2 separate regions of the Homo sapiens genome follow, and region 1 is linked to region 2. Evidence: fine-mapped expression QTL. A gene starts in region 2. The other region holds a variant in brackets. All regions are shown on one strand. Distances are from middle to middle.

Region 1 (2,895 bases), 76 kb before region 2:
CCAGGCCAGGGTCCCCCAAGGGGTCCCAGCAAGGTCCTGAGACAGGAGACCCCTGGGAACAGGAAATAACGGGTTGGAAGCCAGAGGAGTCAAAATTGCCCCGGGGGCAAGGAACAGCAGCAGAGAGAAAGGCCAGAGGCTGTGACTTCCAGGGACAGGGACCATCCAGTCAGCAGGGGGAGGCAGGGACTTCTCAGGGTCAAGAGAGGAGACATCAGATCGGGGAGGCAGAGACCCCCAGGACCAGGAGAAATCAAGCCAGCAGATGGGAGAGGCAGGGACCCCCTAGGATTAGGAGCCACCAACGCAGTGGCTGGGACAGGGAGTAAGGATCCCAGAGAAGCAAGGAGGCCCAGGGACAACCATGCCCCCCTGCTTCCCGGTGCTGCGGGCTGAGCCATGCCCGGCCCCGCCGCCCTCCTCACCCTTGTAGTAGCTGTCCGTGTAGCTGGCGTTGACAAGCTCCTTCAGGCTGTCCGTTTGCCGCGCGATCTCCAGGAGCAGGGGGATGGTGGTGTTCTGTCCGTCGTGCAGGTTGAGCATGGCTTTCAGCAGACAGGTCTTCCCTGTCTCAGGGTCTGAAAGACATAAGGGAGGGTCAGGGCAGGCCAGGGCTGGGGCCCTCCCCGAGCCCAGCGCTGGGGCCACCTTTGAACTCGTTGTCTGTGAGGTGCTTCTTGCTCTTCTGCAGGAAGAGCAGCAGGCTCTCCAGATCCTGGCAGTTATTCTGAGCAACGGCTTCAAAGATACTCCTGCGATCATAGAGCCTGAGGGTCTTCTCGGTGCTGGCGGCGACAGAGTCCTGGGACAGCAGCCTGTGGGCCAGAAAACACGCTCGTCTCATACCCTGGCCTCCCCTCGGCCCTGAGGCCTTCGGAGCTTGTCAAGGGAACACGACTAAATCCCAAGGCAAACCAAAAAGGGGAAAAATGATATAAAAGCTGCCCCTCAGTCTAGGTGACTGTCCAGAAAAGCAATGTAACAGGGACAGTGGAGGGCATGTGTCCCCATTCTGTCCCCACCCTGTCTATAGACACCATCTAGAAAGTCACCCTCCTACTCCCAGACCACTGGCTTCTCTGCCTGCTCGGGAGCTCGGGAGGCAGGAGCCTGGTGGGGACGGAGGGAGGTGGAGGCAGGGGTGTAGACAGCCCCTCTAAGGGAAAAGGTGGCCTCACACTCCCCAGAAGTCAGCCAGCCTGTGGCCCTCCCTGCCCTGCCTTGCAGCTCACTGGAGCTGTGCTGTGCTCTCCAAAAGCCTCCTGCCCTTGAGCTTTTAGACTTCAAGTCCAAGTGTCTGTGGCTGGTAGGCATTGCGGGCGTGGACACCTAGACCCAGCACAGACACCAGCCCCCGTGACTGCACATCCCACGAGGTCACATGAGGAAGGACGCTGGACCAGACCACCCCTAAGGCTCTCCAGCCCCCTGGCTTTGTGACATTTAGCCCAGAAGCCAGACCACCCTGTGGCATCTCCATGGCCAGCTGGGCTCCCAGCAGGGAGGGGGGCTCCAGACGCGGACTTACCTGGCACCGGTGGGGCCGTCTCCTGGCCTC[T/C]GGATGGTGATAACAGGGCTGACTGTGATGGTCGGGCAGGAGTCCAGCTCACCTTCCTCGTGAGGGCAATCCACCGGGAAAGCCTCCTCCGAGTCACCCTTCCCAAAGAGCCGGGTGCGGCTCTTGGCCGTGGAGAGCTGGGGCTTGGCTGGAGGTGGCCTGGAGTTAGGGTCTCCATCCAGGGGGTCTGGGCAGGTGTCCTTTTGGAGTGGGTCCGCAGCTGCCCCCAAGTCTGTGCTGCTCCATTTCTTCATCCTTGCTGGATCCTCTGTGGCCCAGTGTGCAACCTGCAGCAGCCACCACGCCGGGGTTGACTCCCAAAGTAAGGACTGCTTGTCCTTAGACCCCACCTGCCCTCCTTGCCAAGGGCCCTGTGAAGCAGGGTACCCCAAAACTCCAACTTGCTGCTGCCCCCAGCCCCCTAGAACTGAAGTGTTTCCAGGACTGAACCTCTCACCCCAGAGGCCTCAGAGGTGAGCAGGCCTAGCAGGGCCCAGGCAGTCCTGCGGCCACTGACGTCGGCCTGGGAGGGTGGACAGGCCCCCGGCTCAGAGCCATCTGTGGTTCTGGGTTAGACCCATCCCTCCTCGTCTCTGGGCCTCAGGTGCCTCCTCTGCAGGGTGAGGTTGATAACCACCGCGCTGCCTCCCTCCCCACACAGAACAAGGAAAACGGCCGGGGTGGCTGTCGTGGGCTGAATTCAGGGAGGATCTCGGTGATGAGGATGGCTCAGTCCAGAAGAGCCAAGCAGACTGTGTCCCTGGAATAGGGTGAGCGGCAGAGACTGGCCCACCCACACCCACACCGCACTGCGGGGCCCTGCTGTGCAACGGGTCCACACATCATCAGCCAGGTGCCCGGCCTGCCTTTGCTCTTCAACCTCGCTGCCACAGCCACTGAGCTTATACGAGATTTTGGATTTTGTGCTTTTTGTCATTTTTATGAATCAACATCTGTCAAGCATCCTGGCCTTGAATGTTTAGGCGTGTGTGTGTGTGTGTGTGTGTGTGTGTGTGTGTGTGTGTGTGTGTGTGTGTGTGTCTGTGTGTCTCACTCTGTCGCCCAGACTAGAGTGCAATGGGGCAATCTCTGCTCACTGCAACCTCCACCTCCCAGGTTCAAGCGATTCTCCTCCCTCAGCCTCCCAAGTAGCTGGGATTACAGGCGCCCGCCACCATGCGTGGCTAATGTTTGTATTTTTAGTAGAGACAGGGAACGTTTAGGCTTTAAGTGATTTGGAGCTGGTTGGTCTTCTAGGCCTAAACACCTAGAGATCAGCTGGCCGCTGGCAGCAGCATGTGTAGTTGGACACATGAGCTGATGCTATTTTCCACTCC
Region 2 (2,895 bases):
CAGTTTTGGGGAAGGCCCTGGGACCAGTTATGGCGTGAGGGAGGGGGGCAGGAAGCATGAGGCCTACTGTGCCTGGGTCCTCATGCCCCAAACTGAGCTCCTCCAGGCCTGCTCTGCCGGCACGGTCAGAAGATTACAGGCCCTTGGGTTGGGAGACAGGGCTGTCACTGATTTGCTGGGTGAGGTCACGCAGAAGGTGGCTTGCTGTAGCTCCTCACCTGTCCCTGCCCCCCTTCTACCTAAAGAGCAAACCTGGTGCCTTCTCTCTGGGGCAGGTAGGGATCTAAAAAAGCCAGGCTGGGCCGGGTGTGGTGCCTCACGCCTGTAATCCCAGCACTTTGGGAGGCTGAGGCAGGTGGATCACCAGAGGTCAGGAGTTCAAGACAAGCCTGGCCAACATGGTGAAACCCCGTTCTACTAAAAATACAAAAATTAGCTGGGCATGCTGGTGCATGCCTGTAATCCCAGCTACTCGGGAGGCTGAGGCAGGAGAATCGCTTGAACCCAGGAGGCGGAGGTTGCAATGAACCGAGATCGCGCCACTGTACTCCAGCCTGGGCGACAGAGCAAGACTGTCTCAAAAAAAAAAAAAAAAAAAAAGTCAAGCTGGTGCAGGGAGGGTGAAGCTTAGGACAGCTGTCAGCTGGTCCAGCAATGTTTCCTCCTGGCCCAGGCCTGAGCCAGTGCTCTAAGCTCAGCCTCACTTGTCGCCTTTATCAGTGGCTTCTCTGCCTCCACCCACCTGATTGCTGGAGCTTCTCCAGCACACCCAACTGAGATAACACACCCAGTCCCTATGGCTCCAGGGCGGGGACTTTCGCTTGACCTACTGCCCACCGGGCAGGCATTTCTTCTCATTCTCTGAACGCTGTCGGGAGGTAGGCAGGAGACCTGAGTCTTTCCTGAGGTGGTCTTTTCTGGCTGAGCACTTCTCTCTGGGACTCCCCACCTCTGTCATAGGGTTGTGTCCCTCTGTGACACCGGCGTCTGAGTCTAACGTCCCAGCCTTCCTTCCTCCCTCTGCCTAGTCTAATAGCACCCAGCACCTAAAACAAGCCAGAGGGCGGCCAGGGGCCTAGGCTAGCCCCCGGAGGGTCTACTCAGGACTCAAGTGCCAGGAGGGAGGCCTGGACTTTTTTGCCTTAAGGGCTGGAGACCCAGGAAAAGTTCGAAGAGGAAACGCTCATCGCAGCTATACGAGCGTCCACCCTGGACCAGGCGGCGAGTGGGTTGGAGGAGCAAGGCTGGACAGGAAGGGGGCAGGGGCTGCCACGGCAGGCTCGGGAGAGCCCCACCCCCAGATCTCCCTCCGGGCGGCGGCGCAGGCTGCAGCGGAGGAAGCATTTCCTCATTCCAGAGGCTGCGACTCATGGACGTCGGGATCGGCGCCCGCCCCCAGCAGCTCCCCGTCTGGGGACACGGAGGCCCGGGAAGGGGGCGCTTTTCCAGGCTCCTGCAGCCAGGCCTTTCCCCGTGGCCCTCCCCGCCCTGCGCACGCAGTCTGGGCTCTGTCCAGGGTCTCGGGAGGCTCTCGGGTCCCGGCCATCCCTGTTTCGTGGCTGGGGGAACTGCGGCCCGCTCCGGCAAAGCGGGGACCCGAGCCCTTGCCGCCGGTTCGCAGGAGCCCCGGGTTCGATGCTCTGTCAACCTGCTTGGGGTGTCCGTTTCCCGCTCTGCGAGGTGGGGTCAGGCCAAGACGAGGAGGAGCCCGCGCAAGCGCACTCACCACCACGGCGGTGACCGGCTGGCCCGGGATGTAGGACATCTCGACCCTGCTCTGGTCGCCCAGCGCCGCTCCGAGAAGCCGGCAGCAGAGTACCCGCGGTCGCGCCCTCGCTGCTTAACAAAGGCCGCCCCGCTCGGCCCGCCCCCTCATGAATAGTTAACAAACCTCCAGCCAATCACTGGCCGGAGCGCCACTCCGCTTTCGGAAGTCCCTGCGCGTGCGCAGAAAAGCGGGCAGAGGGCGGAGCGTGTCCGGGGCGCCCACGGCGCAGGCGCGGAGGGCGGGGCGGGATCTGGGCGCGTGCGCAGCCCGAGACCTCCCGGCAGTCTTCCGAGCAAGATGGCGCCGCGGGCATTTCTTCCACTGCCCGTCTGAGGGAACGCTAAGTAGTGTGTCCGGCGCCGTGTTCCAGGTAACTGGGCCACCGTGGCCGGGGAACGCAGACGCGCCACCACCTCCCGGCCGGCCCGGACCCTCAATCTCCTCGGCGTCTTTGGAAGATCCGAGGCCCAGGACTGGTGCCAGGTCTCGGAAGCTCCAGGGGGAGGGGGCGGCGTGAACCCAACTCACCGAGCTCCGGGCGCCACTTGTAACTTGGTTTTCTCCGCAGCTCCGCGTTGTTCCGCGAGAAAGCGAGAGGCCGAGCCCGGGCTGGTGCGATGGCCGCGGTGGTGGCCAAGCGGGAAGGGCCGCCGTTCATCAGCGAGGCGGCCGTGCGGGGCAACGCCGCCGTCCTGGATTATTGCCGGACCTCGGTGTCAGCGCTGTCGGGGGCCACGGCCGGCATCCTCGGCCTCACCGGCCTCTACGGCTTCATCTTCTACCTGCTCGCCTCCGTCCTGCTCTCCCTGCTCCTCATTCTCAAGGCGGGAAGGAGGTGGAACAAATATTTCAAATCACGGAGACCTCTCTTTACAGGAGGCCTCATCGGGGGCCTCTTCACCTACGTCCTGTTCTGGACGTTCCTCTACGGCATGGTGCACGTCTACTGAAATGGGGGCCCGGGGGACTTTTTTAAAAAACCAGATCGGGAGGACTGTGGCCAGCAATTAACACCATGTAGACTTCCTTAGTTCTTAAGTGGTTGAATTCGCTGCTTGTTCTGTAACGTTATAAATAATTTATATCTGAAGACGGAGAGCCTGTAATATTCTTCAGATTAAATGAAG

The links.
Region 1: its variant is fine-mapped to the expression of TAX1BP3 in whole blood (TOPMed, PIP 0.97).

What each region holds. Positions count from the first base shown.
Region 1 is chr17:3,590,539-3,593,433 of GRCh38, forward strand. TRPV1 (transient receptor potential cation channel subfamily V member 1) reads right to left here. Exons shown (of 17, transcript NM_080704.4): 3 at 1,529-1,845; 4 at 649-815; 5 at 426-578. The coding sequence starts at 1,812. Among named protein-coding and RNA genes, the nearest start is that of TRPV1, 17 kb to the right of the region's middle. The variant T/C (reference allele first, on the strand shown) is at 1,559.
Region 2 is chr17:3,666,762-3,669,656 of GRCh38, forward strand. It overlaps TAX1BP3 (Tax1 binding protein 3), which reads right to left and starts at 1,817. Exons shown (of 4, transcript NM_014604.4): 1 at 1,727-1,817. The coding sequence starts at 1,765. EMC6 (ER membrane protein complex subunit 6) reads left to right here and starts at 2,051. Exons shown (of 2, transcript NM_031298.4): 1 at 2,051-2,138; 2 at 2,337-2,895. The coding sequence starts at 2,386. The coding sequence ends at 2,718. It overlaps P2RX5-TAX1BP3 (P2RX5-TAX1BP3 readthrough (NMD candidate)), which reads right to left. Exons shown (of 15, transcript NR_037928.1): 12 at 2,297-2,895. RefSeq lists enhancers at 611-1,142, 1,143-1,673, 2,206-2,736, 2,737-2,895 and a silencer at 1,765-2,104.